Linked DNA regions of Homo sapiens: region 2 is linked to region 1. The links come from fine-mapping of genetic effects on gene expression. Tissue or cell type: whole blood. Region 1 holds a variant in brackets; the other region holds the start of a gene. All regions are shown on one strand. Distances are between the middles of the regions.

Region 1 (8,257 bases):
GGGTAGGGACTAGATGTGGCATTTGGTTAGGGATGGTAGGAAGCAAAGCTGAGAGATGGCTGATGGATTGTTCAGGGACCGGAGAAACAGACTCCTTCCAAGTTAGGGGTAGTACTTCCTGTTACCTCAAAAGTTGGTTAGAGGGTGGGGACAAAAATAAAGATTGAGAGCTCAGGCTCCAGCCTAGAGAGCCCATCCCATGGAGTTAGTTTTGCGATACTTGTAGTTCTGGGCTGACATGTGGGAAGGAATTGGGAAACAGGAAAATGTGCTTGTGTTGTTTATTGCAGAAATCCAAGGACACTTATTTGCTGTATGAGGGTCGAGGCCCTGGTGGCTCTTCTCTGCTCATCGAGGCATTATCTAACAGTAGCCACAAGTGCCAAGCAGACATTAGACATATCCTGAATAAGAATGGGTAAGTGTGCGTCTGGGAGGAGTGGTAGGGGACAGAGCCTTTATGTTCCAATTCTCTGCAAGGCAAGTACTGTTGATCTCTGCTAGTGTTTCAGGGTTTTGTTTTTTGTTTTTTTGTTTTTTGAGACGGAGTCTCACTCTTGTCGCCCAGGCTGGAGTGCAATGGCATGATCTTGGCTCACTGCAACCTCTGCTTTCTGGGTTCAAGTGATTCTCCTGCCTCAGCCTCCTGAGTAGCTGGGATTAAAGATACCCACAGCCATGCCCAGCTAATTTTTGTATTTTTAGTAGAGGTGACAGGGTTTCATCATGTTGGCCAGACTGGTCTCGAACTCCTGATCTCAGGTGATCCACCTGCCTCAGCCTCCCAAAGTGCTGGGAGCCACCATGCCTGGCCATGTTTCAGGTTTTAAGCACACTTGCTCCTTAGCAGAATCTAATGAGTTAATTGACTTTCCCTTAATGTAGTTTCTACTAGCAGGATCCCAAAGACTTGTTCATCGGATGTAGAAGGGGATCTTTGTCCTATTATCCCCATCTGTAGCCATATAATGCCTAAGTCTTAAAATGCTCCACCAGGACTGGCATCTTAATGGCACAGGAAATTATCAGCTAAGTCTGCTTCCTCCCAACTGCAATCAGGGCAGAAAATCGAGCGTGGGGACATTCTTGGGCTGTTCCCTTACCCAGCAGCAGCTGCATTTTCTCCTTGAGGATGCGATCTGCTCCATGTCTGTGTGTACTTCATAGACTGGGTAAGAAAGAGACAGTGATAGAATGATGAGCTTTATGGAGGCTGAGCTTCTAGAGGCATCCACTCATGCCAGCCTGTTTCCTTCCCTGTCAGAGGAGTGATGGCTGTAGGAGCTCGTCACTCTTTTGACAAAAAGGGGGTGATTGTGGTTGAAGTGGAGGACAGAGAGAAGAAGGCTGTGAACCTAGAGCGTGCCCTGGAGATGGCAATCGAAGCAGGAGCTGAGGATGTCAAGGAAACTGAAGATGAAGAAGAAAGGAACGTTTTTAAAGTAAGCATGAAAACATGGGTGTTTGGTGGGCTTCCGGGAGGACCCTGATAGATGCCTTATGCATGCCTCTTGGTTTCTTCCTTCATGTGCCCCAGGGTATAGGTGAGACAGTTCACATATTGTACAAACATTTATTAAGTGAATACTGAATAGGACCGACTCTAGTGAGGACTATGAGAAAGAAAGAGTCAAAACATTGAAAACGATGTCCCTGCCAGTGAAGAGCTCAAACCCAGTGATCCATTCCAGTACTGACATTCAGGACTTTGCAAGGTCCTGTGTGGCTTTGTCTCATTACCTCCTGGCTCCTCACCTCCTGACTTTCCTTTATCCCTAGTTTATTTGTGATGCCTCTTCACTGCACCAAGTGAGGAAGAAGCTGGACTCCCTGGGCCTGTGTTCTGTGTCCTGTGCACTAGAGTTCATCCCCAACTCAAAGGTGCAGCTGGCTGAGCCCGACCTGGAACAGGCCGCACATCTCATTCAGGCTCTCAGCAACCACGAGGATGTGATTCACGTCTATGATAACATTGAATAACCAGGCTACATGTGCCCCCGGGTTCCTTCCTAGAAATGTGGCAGCCCATTCCAGCACACAGGCTTCTGCAGCAATCTCTGAGGGTAAAGCCGGTGGGAGGCTCAGCAGGCCAGGAGGCCCAAGGACAGGACTTGCGACCTTGAAGCCAAAGGAATCTCACTTGTGGGGCCTCCTTGTCAGCTCTGCTGCTGTCTCAGAGCCATCTGGATGAGTGTCCCGACACCCTCTCGGATGCAGGGCAGGACCACCCAGCTGGTCAGACTCTGATGTTGGGTAGCTGGCCTCTGTGGGGATTGTAAGTGCCCTGAGGCGCTCTGTACTAGAAACTGCTCTTAATAATAACGGTGATTATTGGTTGCTGCATTGCTGTTGTATGGCTCTTGAGTCTTCCTGAGTTTGTGTCCAGCTGTTGGGATCCTCTGGACTAACTTTCAAGTCCCTAGGCTTAGCTCTACTACTCCAATCCCAGGATTATTTTTTTAATTGGCCATAGAAATGTAGTTGTATCCAGGCACTCCATGGTCTGATGCTGGTCTTACAGCCTAAACCTGTCATTCATTCATGCAACTAATATTTCTGGAACACTAGCTATATACCAAGAACTGTACTTATCTAGAGCATAAGCTATTCAACTGGTGTCCTGTGTTAGATCCTGCTCTAGAAGGTAGGACCTGAACACAGGACTGCTCTTTACTGGAGCTGTCCCAGGGCAGTGTGAGCTGCTGTGCAAGCATCTGTTGCTCTCTTTGTGTGACTTCTGTGCCCTTCTTTCACCAAACAGCTTAAGGTTCTAGCCCAGTAGGAAATCAAGTGCCAGTGATAAGGGACTTGGCAGTGGCTCACACCTATAATCCCATCTACTCGAGAGGCTGAGGCGGGAGGATCACTTGAGCCCAGGAGTCTAAGGCTACAGTGAGCTATGATTGCACCATTGCATTCCAGCTTGGGTGACAGAGTGAGAACTCTTCTTTTTTTTTTTTTTTTTTTTTTTTTTGAGGCAGAGTCTCACTCTGTTGCCCAGGCTGGAGAGCAGTGGCACAATCTCAGCTCATTGCAGCCTTGACCTCCTGGACTCAAGCAGTCCTTCCACCTCAGCCTCCCAAGTAGCTAGAACTACAGGTGCATGCCACCACGCCCAGCTAATTTATATATATTTTTGTAGAGATGGGGTTTCACTATGTTGTCCAGGTTGGTGTCGAGCTCCTGAGCTCAAGTGGTCTGCACACTCGGCCTCCCAAAGTGCTGGGATTACAGGCATGAGCCACCACGCCCGGCTGAGTCTGTCTCTTTTTTTTTTGAGACAGAGTCTTGCTCTGTGGCCCAGGCTGGAGTGCAGTAGCATGATCTTGGCTCACTGCAACCTCCACCTCCCAGGTTCAAGTGATTCTCCTCCTTCAGCCTCCCAAGTAGCTGGGATTACAAGCAGGCACCACCATGCCCGGCTAATTTTTTTGTGGAGGGGGAGGGGAGAAAATTAAACTTTATTTATTTTTAAAAGCAAACCACCGGGAAAATATAACACAGCCTGGAAGCAGCAAATGGACAGGCTATATTATCATTTCAAGTAGTAAGTTGATGAAAATACAATGAGGTTGCTATCAAAACAATAACGTGCCATGCCGGGGCAGGAACACTGCAAGTTGCGAAAGCCCCAGGCAAAAATGGTTTTTGGTACTGGGGTCTGCCTCTCCTTTGCTATAAGGGAGTCAGCTCATCCTAGCCCAAGTTGCTTACTTTTTCTTCCTTGGATTTCCTGTTGCCAGGGTTTGTCTCAATTGTGCTTTGTTAATTCAGGGGGCTAAGTAGGCAGTGCTAGGTTTAGGCTTTCATTCCATCCGTTCTATAAAAACCAGGTTTTTCCAAATCCAGTACTTCATAACTCTGTTATAATCAAGTAGCCAACTGCTCTTCTTTTACTGTTCATTTCTAGATACTAGTATATATCACAATCAAAACCCCCTTCTCTTCACCGGGAAAGTGTTACTGCAAGATTGTCCTGTCATTTTGCTACACACAGCCTCGGCCCATCAGCCAGTAATTATGCTTCCCATAATTAGTATGTCATCACCTCTCATGTTTTTGCATGGTCTCCAGGCTGAAAGATGCAGCATGTAATAATTTTAAGAAATCTACATCTACATCTTGATGACCAGAAATGGGGATCCTCAAGGAAACTTTCAAAGTTCTTATCCAAACTAGTCTCCCTCCCAATTCCACATCTTAAAATCAATTTGTATCGCCTTGTATAAATTACACAAAACCAAGAAAACAAAGACCCAGAAAACTTTTTTGCCCTTCTAAGCGGGTGACCTCATGGATTTTGTTTCACAGCTTACGGAAAA[T/A]GGTGTGGTGACACTTCTGGTAAACAGGATGTTGGCAACAAAGAGAAAATATCTCTCCTCAAACTCCACCAACTCTAACCTGCCAGCCTGTTGGTACCTGTGTAATAAGAAGAGTTTAGTGCCTTGGAGGGCTCTGGCTTGTTACAGGGGAGATCCTTACTGGCAGGACAAGCACTGGCCATAGGATATATAAGCTCTAAAACTCTCCTGTAATATCTCTGACCCAATTTAGCACCACTTTTTTCCATTTCATTTTTTAGGACTGAAACATAAAAGAACCAGTGTCCAGAGGCAAGTGACATATGTCTTACACTTGTGGCCATCCTTCATTTCTTCATAAACTTTGCTTAAAAGACTAAAATTCCCAATTCCTTATAAAAAATATATTCTTGCCCTCAGCCCCAGTGGCCACTGGCAAAGACTGTTATTTCCCAATGGATAAGAGAGCCTCCTTCATCTTCTTGGCCATAGTTGGGATGAGGTGCGTGTGGTCATCCACACACTTGGTCACACAACCGTCCAGCTGCTGCTTCACCTGAAGCTCCTTACTCCCAGTATCCATTGAATCTTTGGCTTTGTTGTTGCAATGCATGGCGCACCGGGCCAGGTGGTGCCGGAACTTCTCCAACTCACTGGTGAGCAAAGCCCGGGCTTGAGCCAGAGGCACATGGCAGTGCTTTGATGTACTGGTGCACCTACTGCATGGAGGCCTGGCTGTCCTCACAACAGCTGGTGCTGCACCGGAACATGAGACCCTGCATCTTCCAGATGTTCTCTCTCTCCAGACTCTTCACCATGGAGTCCACCACCTCCTGCACCCACAGCTGCTGCAGCTCTGCCATGGCGTCCCCATACCGCCCTGCACCGTGCCACCCCGGCTAATTTTTGTATCTTTAGTAGAGACCAGGTTTGGCCATGTTGGCCAGGCTGGTCTCGAACTCCTGACCTTAGGTGATCCGTCCATCTTGGCCTCCCAAAGTGCTGGGATTACAGGCATGAGCCATGGCGCCCAGCCTCTGTCTTTCAAAAAAAAAAAAAGGGACTTACTAGGGCCTGCTTTGCCTGGGTCCCTATGCATCCTGGGATTGGTCAGAGTGAACCAATGAGAAGACTGAGCTGCTCTCAAGAAGGGCTACCACAAGCTGGTTTTGAAAGCTTCTTGGTTCTGAGAACAACCAGCCCTAGATCCTTTTCATCTCTGATGCCAAATGATGTGGCACTGAGAACTGAAGAGGAAACGTGAACAGAAAGAAGAGTGAGGGCTGAATAAGAAGCCTCGCCAGTGGGAAATAGGGCCCTTGGTACCTTTTGCTCCTAATAGTCACATCTGTGTTTAGAAGGGCCAGGAACTCCCACCTCCTGCGTCAGAGCCTGTCAAGCATGTCAGGCCTAGAGTGGCTTTCTGATCCCTGTTATACACCTATTTATAAGTTATCTAAGCTAATTCTGAGCTCAGAGTAATTTTCCTGAAGGAGCTTCAGGTAAATAAGGATGACAAAGAACTAAAACCAAATTTACTGTAAATGATAACTTCAGCTTCTAAGAAAAGAATTACTGACTCCACACTGATGTCAATAGCTGGAGAGCAAGGGCTACGAGGAAGAAAACCAGTGAAATAATCCATGGTCATGCCACTTGCCCAAATATCTGAATTGCTTATCATTAAAAAAGAGCAAATTTACGTTTATATGTGGCTTCATAATTTGTAAGATACGTTTACATGTTATTTATTTGATTTTCCCAACAAACCTATAAAACACTTTGGCCAAGTATTTTATGCACAAATGATCTCATACCAAGCAGGAAAGAACAGGTCTTACACTGATAGACCTTGGTGTTTATAAAATAGCTCTGTTTTGGAAATTAATTTGGAGGAATCTTATTTATAATCTGAGAAATCTGTACTAAGGGAGTCTGCTCTTAAAGGGAACATGGCTAGTCATGTGAATAGATCTCTAATGTAGCATATAGAATCTTTATTAATATGGATTGTTGCATAACCAATTATCTTACATCAAGACATGCTTACTGTAAGGCACAGTAAAGGCTCCTGTGATGATGGCTCTGCACTGACCCCTAGTGGTGCCCTGCAGTCTCTCTCCTGCAGTTAATAGGAAAGGCAGAAATGAACCCTTCTTGAATTTGTTCTGCTGTCTCTAGATCTGGAAAAGAGACCCTGAGCTATTCAAATAAAGATGGTCACGGCCGGGTGCGGTGGCTCCCGCTTGTAATCCCAGCACTTTGGGAAGCCGAGGCGGGTGGATTACCTGAGGTCAGGAATTCGAGACTAGCCTGGCCAACATGGTGAAACCCCGTCTCTACTAAAAATACAAAAATTAGCCAGGCATGGTGGCAGGCGCCTGTAGTCCCAGCTACTCAGGAGGCTGAGGCAGGAGAATCACTTGAACCCGGGAGGTGGAGGTTGCAGTGAGCCGAGATCACACCATTGCACTCCAGCCTGGGGCACAAGAGCGAGACTCCGTCTCAAAAAAAAAACATTAAAGATGGTTACATCCATATGCCAAGGTATTATGTTGCCACTAAAAATTATTTTTTAAAGAATCTTTTGTCAGAGAAAATGTTTAGAATATAACATTAAGTGGGAAAAAAGATACAAAACTACATGTATAGTGTGGTCCAAATTTTGAAATAGATATGTATATATTTATTTAACATATTATATATATGAACTTTTTAAAAAAGACTAGAAGGAAATGTACTAAAATATCAAAACAGGTTATCTCAGGGTAGTGATGTTATTACTGAGCTTTATATTCTGTAATCATGTTTTCCTTTTTTCTTTCTTTCTTTTCTTTTCTTAAGAGATGGTGTCTTCCCGGCCGGGCGCGGTGGCTCACGCCTGTAATCCCAGCACTTTGGGAGGCCGATGTGTGTGGATCATAAGGTCAGGAGTTCGAGACCAGCCTGGCCAATGTGGTGAAACCCCGTCTCTACTAAAAATATAAAAATTGGCTGGGCGTGGTGGCGGGCGCCTGTAATCCCAGCTACTTGGGAAGCTGAGGCAGGAGAGTCATTTGAACCCAGGAGGCGGAAGTTGCAGTGAGCCAAGATCGCACCACTGCACTCCAGCCTGGGCGACAGAGCAAGACTCCGTCTCACCGAAAAAAGAAAAAAAAGAGAGAGAGAGAGATGGGGTCTTCCTGTGTAAGGCTGGTTTTGAATTCCTGGCTCCTAGGGATCCTCTTGCCTCAGCCTCCCAAAGTGCTGGGATTATAGGTGTGAGCCACTGTGCCCAGCCCCCATGTTTTACTTTTATCAGGTGACATAATTAAAAAAAAACCAAAAGCTAGTCTCACAGCATCTGAGAGTCTGGGAGTCAGATGCATGTTAAAGTCAGAGGAATGAGGTCCAGTGCTGGCTTGGCTTGCTTTGCCTTATCTTTGGTTATTGTCTTAGCAACATAAAATTATTCAAGGTCTTGAAGCCACCTTGGGCTTACCTTCAAGTGTCCTTTTAGTGGGACAGAAGTATCTGTGATAGGCTCTGTTCACAGTCTTGACTGTTATAAGAAGCACTCTTGTGCGTAGCCACCTCCCCTCTGCTAGAGGCCCTGGCTGAATCCAAGAGGAACAGCAAAGGCTGTGCCTCCAACCAACTGTGGAAATTCAGCCATGTGGTTGAGTTACTTTTTTTTCTCTGAAACTTATAGCAGTCAATAAATTTTCAAACTCGAAGAGCCCCCAATTCCCAGACTTATTTGAATCCCCAAAGACACTTCTGGAGACATTCTCTTCACAGAAAATAAGTCTGGCAAAAGGGAATGCGATGATAGATCCACAATACTCTTTTTCTTTTCCTTTTCCTTTCCTTTCTTTCTTTCTTTTCTTTTCTTTTTTTTGTGTGTGTGTGTGTGTAACAGGGTCTTTGTCAGCCAAGCTGGAGTGCAGTGGCACAACCATCGCTCACTGCAGCCT
Region 2 (8,000 bases), 130 kb before region 1:
ACAAAAGTTTTAAATTTTGATGAAGACCAATTTATCTGTTTTTTCTTTCATCACTTATGCTTTTGGTGTCATATCTAAGAAACCATTGACTAATCCAAGGTCACAAAGATTTATTGCCTATGTTTTCTTCTAAAAGTTTTATGATTTTAGTTCTTACATCAAGGTCTATTTTAAGTCTTTTGTTTTGTTTTTTGTTTTTTGTTTTGAGACAGGGTCTTACTCTGTCACCCAGGCTGGAGTGCAGAGGCACAATCATGGCTCACTGCAGCCTCAACCTCTTGGCCTCAAGCAATCCTCCCACTTCAGCCTCCCAAGTAGCTGGTATTATAGACATGCGCAACCATGCCCAGCTAATTTTTTTGTAGAGATAGGGTTTCACCATATTGCCCAGACTGGTCTCAAACTCCTAAGCTCCAGTGATCCGCCCACCTCAGCTTCCCAAAGTTCTGGGATTATAGGCATGAGCCACTGCACCCAGCCCCAAATTTTGTATATGGTATTAGAAAGGGGTCCAACTTCATTCTTTTACATGTGGAAATCCAATTGCCCCAGCACCATTTGTTAAAAATATTTTCTTTCCCATTTAATTGTCCTAGTGTTCTTGTCAAAAACAATTGAACATAATTGTATGGGTTCATTTCTGGACTCTCAATTCTATTCCATTGTTGAGCATATTTTTAAGGGCTGTTTTTCTCTCCTGTGGTAACTGGTGACCTGTACTTCCTGGAAGAGAGATGAAAAGATTCCCAAGCCAACTGAGTTACCTCACGTGGGTCAGGTCTCTGTGGCTCTCTGCACTGGCCTATTCATAATGATATCCTCCTGCAGGATTTGAGCCTTCTCCTTTGTTGTGACGGCAGCCGAGGAGGTGGCTGACTGCCCAGACAGCCTTATCTCTTTCCTACCTTTCAAGGTTATTGTAAATACCAAATTAGATTGTTTATACACAAGAATTTAGCACTAAAGCACTATACAAATGTAAGCTATTTATTTCTATTTATCCTTCTCCTTCATGAATAAGACCCTAAAAATAGAAGATATTTTTAATTTTTACTCACTGGGCTCAAGGTTGCAGTGTCTGTATTATTGCAAATTCCAAATTAATGAAGTCTGGCTCTTCTTATATTATTCCTGCAAAAGGCTGTGTGCTCACCCCCCGGAGTGTGAATACGAGTGTGGGTCATTTCCTCTTTCCTCTGCACCCTTCCTTCGATGAGGTTTTGCCCTGTGCTAGGCACCATGCTAAACTCTGAGAAAACCACAGAGAACAAGGCAGACGCCATCCCTGCCCTCCAGTAACATACAATTTAGTGATGAAGCTGGGGGATTTAACAAGCCATTCTAATAAAGCGTTACAGTGAGGGAGGTGCAGGGTGATGCCTCCAGCAGCCCTGGTGTCAGCTGCTCCAGGTCCAGGGGAAGACTTCCATTATCTTCCAACCCTGTCGGAAGTGGAGGCGGAGGCTGTTTATTGCTGACACAGTCCCTAACCCAGGGTCTATAGACATTGTGGAAATGCCTTGGAGTCAGACGGGAGAATGAACCAGCAGAAGCAATGCCCGCCCTCCACCCTCCTGAAGAGGGTTCTCAGGAACTCTTTGGAGGCGAGGCCAGCCTCTGGCTGAGGGCCTCTGGATACAGGTTAGGCCTCAGGCTCTTCTCCTCTCTACTCATCTCTCCTCCCTTGGCCCCTCCTTCAGAGGCTGACAGAGCCCCACTCTCATCTCTTCCCCACCCAAGCCTCTTTCCACAGAAAGACTGCTTCCTCCCAGGAGACAGCAGCTCATTTGCACACAGACACCCACAGCCCTCAAAGCCTGGAAGGCCAAGCTGTTAGGACCCCTGAGAGCAGGGTGGCTCCTGGGAGGAGAGCCCAGGCCACCACCTTGCCCTCCCTGGCCCCTGGCCTTCGATGGGGCTGCTCTGATCACAAACGTCCACCAACGTAGCCGGCCCAGAAGTGCACCCATGTCCTCTGGTATCCACTGGCTCTCCAAGCCAAACTGGGCAGGGAGGAGTTGTGAGGGAAAACTGCAGGTCAGGAGGGAGGCTGGCAAAGCGGGCCAGGGCCAGGCCTGACCCCAGCTCTCCTCTCCCGGCCCCACTGCCGGCCAGTGTTTAACAAGGCCCTGCCTTCTCCCTCTAGTGCTAGGGACAGCCACCTTCTTCCTCTCCCCACCGCCCCCTCTCCCCTGCAACACGTCATCTGACAAGTCAGTGCGATCTCACTGGAGGTGCATCTCACAGGAACGCGGGGTCACAGCCTCCTGCACACACTCCATGCTGCACAGCAAGGTGCACGTGTCCCTCAGAGCCCCAGACACCATCCCCCACTCACCCAGAAGCCCAAGTGATTCCCAACAGCCCCCAGCAGCCTAATGGGTTGGGGTCTTGGGAGCAGCTGTCCCTGGCTCCTTCCCTGATCCCACCGCCCAGCCTCACCCCACGGTTCCTCCATTGCCCCACCTCCCACTGCGCCGCCGGGCCTCTGCCAGGGTCAAGGGGCTTCCCCCCTCTGGCAGCAGACGCCATGGTGCCGAGGTGGCCTCCACAACCGCCCTGTGCGCCAATAGGACAAGACTGTCCTCCCTCCCCCACACTTGTCACTTTGAGGGACACGTGGATGAGACAGGAAAACACAGGGGAGTGTGGAGACCTGAGGTGACTTGGAGCAAGCCTCTCAACCTGAGCGGCAATTTCTTCATCTGTAAAATGAGGGGGTTGTTCTCATCTCTGAGGCTTTGTGTCGCTCTCAAAGCCTGCTAGCCTCGGGTTCTAGGACTCTGTTGGGATCGTGTGTGATGTTTTCTGCTGAGCGACTGGCAGCCTGTGTCCTCGGGGGGAAAGAGGGCAGGCGCTCCAAAGCTCCTGCGCTCTGTGGCTCCCCCTCCCTCGCAGCCCCAAGCCCCAGGTGTGCCGGCCGCCCTGAGCCCCTCCAGCACCTCCCGGAGGCGCCTGCAAGACACCTAAGGTCCCCGCCTCCCTCCTCTCCCCCCCGCCACACCCCTACCCCCGGCAGGCGACGTCCCCGCCCCTCGACCATGGCCTGGTGAAGAAGCCGGCCAGGCCCGATCAGCCCCATCCCCGCCGCACGAGCGGCGCCTGCGGACAGCTCCTGGGGCCCCGGCCTTGTCACTCCGGAGGCGGGAGGCTCCGGGGGGTCGGGCTGGGAAGATCGAGCCGGAGGCCGCTAGGCTCCCAGGCCCCGGCCGAGGCTGCGCGGCCGCACGGTGGGCAGGCTCGGGTGTTCCGGCAAACTGCCGGGTCCCCATCTTCTAAAGAGAGGAGGCCCTTTCTCCAGCTTCCTCTGCGGGAGCCCGACCCAGCCCCATCCCGCCACCCCCGGGCTGCACCTCGGCCCCTCCCCGGCCCGCGCCCCTGCCCGGGGCGGGCCAGGAACCTCGGCCCGCGCCGCTGGGGACTCTGGAGCGGAGGAGGAAGCGCGGCGGGGCGGGGGCGGGGGTGTGTCGGGTTTTATAACCCGCAGGGCGGCCGCGGCGCAGGAGAAGGGGCAGAGCCGAGCACCGCGCACCGCGTCATGGGGGCCGCCTCGGGCCGCCGGGGGCCGGGGCTGCTGCTGCCGCTGCCGCTGCTGTTGCTGCTGCCGCCGCAGCCCGCCCTGGCGTTGGACCCCGGGCTGCAGCCCGGCAACTTTTCTGCTGACGAGGCCGGGGCGCAGCTCTTCGCGCAGAGCTACAACTCCAGCGCCGAACAGGTGCTGTTCCAGAGCGTGGCCGCCAGCTGGGCGCACGACACCAACATCACCGCGGAGAATGCAAGGCGCCAGGTGGGCGCCCGGGCCCGGGCGGGGGCGGGGCGGGGCCGCGGCGGCCAATCACAGCACGCGGCCGGCTTGTGGGGCGGGCAGGCTGGCGCCCCCGACCCGAACCCCACCCCGACCCCGGACCCTCGCCCCGACAGTCAGCCGCGGGGCCCGAGCGCCGGGCTGCGCGCACGGCCTGCGCTCCCAGCATGCACGAGTTGGATGGATGAGGGTGGCTGCTCCCAGGCCGCGCCCGCCTTCGCCGAAGGTGCTGGGCTTGGCTCTGGGGCCCCCGCGCTCTCGGGCAGCTGCCTTCTCACCTCCGGACGCTGTCGCTGTCACCGTCACCGCACTGCACTGTCCATCCACCCTCCACTCGCCCGGCCTCTTTTCTGGTCCCAATTTCTGCTCCACCATTCCCATGAGGCAGATTCCCTCCAGAAGGAGGAAGCGCGGCTTCCGCAAACTAAGGTCTCCCGCAGGGATCTCCCCAGGGCCCGGGCTCTGGAAGCCCTTGGCCTTCCTCCCCTCCCCCAGCACCGTGGCTTCTCCTTTATGGCCTGCATCTAAGCAGGGTCCTACACCCTCCCTGCCCTCCTGGTGCCCAATAGGAGGAAGCAGCCCTGCTCAGCCAGGAGTTTGCGGAGGCCTGGGGCCAGAAGGCCAAGGAGCTGTATGAACCGATCTGGCAGAACTTCACGGACCCGCAGCTGCGCAGGATCATCGGAGCTGTGCGCACCCTGGGCTCTGCCAACCTGCCCCTGGCTAAGCGGCAGCAGGTGGGCTGAGGGCTGAGGCAGAGCTCGGGGGCGGCCTCCTAGTGCCCCATCGTGGGGGTCGGGGGAGAGCAGCCCATCAGGGAGGGAGGAACCCTGGGATCCACATGGGCCCTGACAGAAGGGAAAGCCCAGGTAAGCACAGAATGGCTTTCTGAGCATTGATTTTTCTTGGAGATGGGGTGGGGAGTTACTTTCTGTTAAAGGAAGCATTCTGGAGTAGGAAGCCAAATTCAAATACACTTCTCCCTAGGCTGGTTTATGAGCTTCTTTGGAAGAGTTGAGAAGGGCTGGGCGTGGTGGCTCAAGCCTGTAATCCCAGCACTTTGGGAGGCTGAGGTGGGCGCATCGCTTGAGCCCAGGAGTTCAAGACCAGCCTGGCCAACATGGCAAAACCTCGTCTCTACAAAAAAAAAATAGCTGGGCTTGGTGGTGCGTGCACCTACAGTCCCAGCTACTCTTGAAACTGAGGGGGAAGGATCACCTGAGCCCAGGAGGTCAAGGCTACAGTGAGCTGTGATTGCACTACTGCACCCCAGCCTGCGTGACAGAGTGAGACCTCCCCCCAAAAAAAAGAGAGAGAGAAAAGGTTGAGAAAGACTGGGAAGTCACCAAAGCCAGAGAATGGGAGGGATCTGCCCTCACTGCAGGGTGGTGCCAAGCTGGGACTTGACCCTGACCCTGACTTTCAGGACTCCTGTCCCCCACTCCACAGGCTGCCTCCACTGGCAGGGGACTCAGAAGTGATCCGGTCACACTAAGTGACACTTAGTGATCAGAAGTGCCCCGGTGCCACTGAGTGGCCTTGTCCAAGCTACATCCACTCTGTGGGCTCCTCCTTCTAGCAGCGAGGGGAGGGCAGATGTCCCAGGGGCTGGTCACTGGAGCATTCCTCCCCTCTGACTCCCCAGTACAACGCCCTGCTAAGCAACATGAGCAGGATCTACTCCACCGCCAAGGTCTGCCTCCCCAACAAGACTGCCACCTGCTGGTCCCTGGACCCAGGTACGGCCCTTGCAGCTCCCCTCTCGGCGGTGCCCTAGTGTTCCCACATTGCCCTGCTGCACTCCAGACCATGCAGTTGTGTAGGGTCTGTGGAGACAGCAGGTAAACCCAAAGGTGTTGCCCTCCAACTGGGGCTGGACGGTGCAGATACCCCCACGCCCTGCTTCTCTTGGCAAGTGGACTTCCGGAATCTCCAGCTGCAGCCCCCACTTCTGTGTGTACCTCGGCCTCTCCCATCACCCCTAGGCCTTCCTCCTGGCTGCCTGGTTTCCCCTTTCGTGGGTCCTCTCATGTTCCCCAAGAGCCCTCAGGCCAGGGACCCCTCGTGGCTTCCCCTTAAACCCCGCTCCAGCCCCCTTTATGAGCAGCTTCGAGGAAGGCACTCCATCCAATAGGCCGCTAAGTGTCTGTCTGGGTTTTGGCCTTTGGGTGTCCCCTTGGTGTCAGCCACCTTAGGTGGTCATGTCTCTGGGGCAGGGGCCCTGCCTGGGTGTTTCTGTAGCTCCCAGCCCCCTCCCACCAGGCCTGTAGGTGGCCCCTGTCTCTGGGGGCACCGTGATGTTCAGGAAGCTGGTGGGAGCAGTAAGGACTGGTGCAGGCTCTGGTGAAGGCCGTTGAAGACTTCAACGTGGAGGCCTCCTCACCGACCCTGCCTGCCTGTGTCTCAGATCTCACCAACATCCTGGCTTCCTCGCGAAGCTACGCCATGCTCCTGTTTGCCTGGGAGGGCTGGCACAACGCTGCGGGCATCCCGCTGAAACCGCTGTACGAGGATTTCACTGCCCTCAGCAATGAAGCCTACAAGCAGGACGGTGAGCAGGCCTCTCCCTGTCCAGGAACCACGCCAGGTGTCCTCTCTCAGCTGTCTCCCCAGAGTCCCAGCCCAGAGTCAGGCAGAGCAGCTGGTATGACAATTCCAGCAGGCCCTGAGTTTCCCAGAAAGTGGAGGTGGGACCGGCCTGCACCCAGTGTGCCTGGACTTTGCTGCTGGCCTGCCCCACGTGGCCATCCTGCTGTCACTCCTGGCCCTGATGCTCCTCTTTGCCTCTGGGAACCTCCAGGATCTGTTTAGCTGGCTGTAGCTAATTAGAAATTGTAGAGTGGCAACCCCCAAGCCAATTTTCCAGCTAGCTGCAGATCCACGGGCCTCGAGCCAGTGGAAGAGCCGACTTACAGCTGAGAGGCTGAGGTCCGAGCCTTTGGCCTGAGCTACATACCTCACCCCCACGCCCCCAGGCTTCACAGACACGGGGGCCTACTGGCGCTCCTGGTACAACTCCCCCACCTTCGAGGACGATCTGGAACACCTCTACCAACAGCTAGAGCCCCTCTACCTGAACCTCCATGCCTTCGTCCGCCGCGCACTGCATCGCCGATACGGAGACAGATACATCAACCTCAGGGGACCCATCCCTGCTCATCTGCTGGGTAAGGACCTGGCCTCGCCTCCACATGAGTCCCACGGAAGTGTGGGTCCCGAGGTAGGGGTGGGGGATGTCCAGGGTAAGGGAAGGTGGGTTGTGACCCTCACATCTCACATGTGTGGGGCATCATACTGTTTGCTTCACATGCAGGAGACCATTCGTGTTCCCACTTTACAGGTGGGGACCCTGAGGCTTAGGGTCGTGAGGGACTTAGTGGTCAGAGAGCTAGGGGCCAAACCAAAGGCTCTGGCCCTGGGTCCAGTGGGGGAGCCATCAGCCTAGCTCATGCCCAAGGAAACAAGCACTGTGGCCCTGCCTCAGGATTGAGTGGCTGGGGCCTGGCACAGCCAGAAATGACAGTGGCAGCATCTTGCAGCCCCAGGACATGTGGCCCTCGGAGGAGTGTGGGTGGGACTGATGTGTGAGATTTCTGGCCCTAAGCCAGGCCTGCAGCCCTTGAGGGCCCCAGGGTACAGGTGCCGGCCCCAGGGTGCCACTCAGCGATGCATGAAGAAGCAGGCACAGCCAGGCAGGGAGCCAAGCTGTCCCCTTCCTTCCTTATCTAGGAGACATGTGGGCCCAGAGCTGGGAAAACATCTACGACATGGTGGTGCCTTTCCCAGACAAGCCCAACCTCGATGTCACCAGTACTATGCTGCAGCAGGTAAGCTCTGGGCTCAAGCCTGGGGTGGTGGGGGTCGGGGGTGGGGCGCAAAAAAAGGGAGTCACAGATGGGCACAGGGGCGGGAAGGTTTCGGGTACTGAGCAGCAGCCTGGTGTGTCTGTAGGAGCAGTGAGCTGGGGTCGGCCCCCTCAGTGAGGTGCCAGCTCCTCCCTCCAGGCTCCACAGTGGCAGGATGAGAGCAACAACGCACTTTCACTCATCTGCTGTGGGAGTGAGGGCCCTGCCTCTGGGAATGGTGGCCACAGAGCAGAGAAGCTTTCATGCACAGGGAGTTGACCCGAGATGGGGACCCCAGCCCTGTCCCCAGGCCAGCCAGAGTGGGCTCCCCCTGACCTGGCTCCACACCC

Evidence for each region. PIP is the estimated chance that this variant, and not a neighbour inherited with it, causes the effect.
Region 2: ACE starts here. The variant in region 1 is fine-mapped to the expression of ACE in whole blood (TOPMed, PIP above 0.99). The same link has a PIP of 0.9 or more in blood mononuclear cells.

What each region holds. Positions count from the first base shown.
Region 1 is chr17:63,606,023-63,614,279 of GRCh38, forward strand. TACO1 (translational activator of cytochrome c oxidase I) reads left to right here. Exons shown (of 5, transcript NM_016360.4): 3 at 291-418; 4 at 1,265-1,442; 5 at 1,780-2,343. The coding sequence ends at 1,980. It also overlaps the pseudogene FAM136DP. Among named protein-coding and RNA genes, the nearest start is that of TACO1, 9.3 kb to the left of the region's middle. RefSeq lists enhancers at 4,584-5,084, 5,085-5,585. The variant T/A (reference allele first, on the strand shown) is at 4,323.
Region 2 is chr17:63,473,557-63,481,556 of GRCh38, forward strand. ACE (angiotensin I converting enzyme) reads left to right here and starts at 3,505. Exons shown (of 25, transcript NM_000789.4): 1 at 3,505-3,787; 2 at 4,375-4,542; 3 at 5,451-5,544; 4 at 6,213-6,356; 5 at 6,781-6,972; 6 at 7,535-7,632. The coding sequence starts at 3,539. RefSeq lists silencers at 3,765-3,854, 3,955-4,014.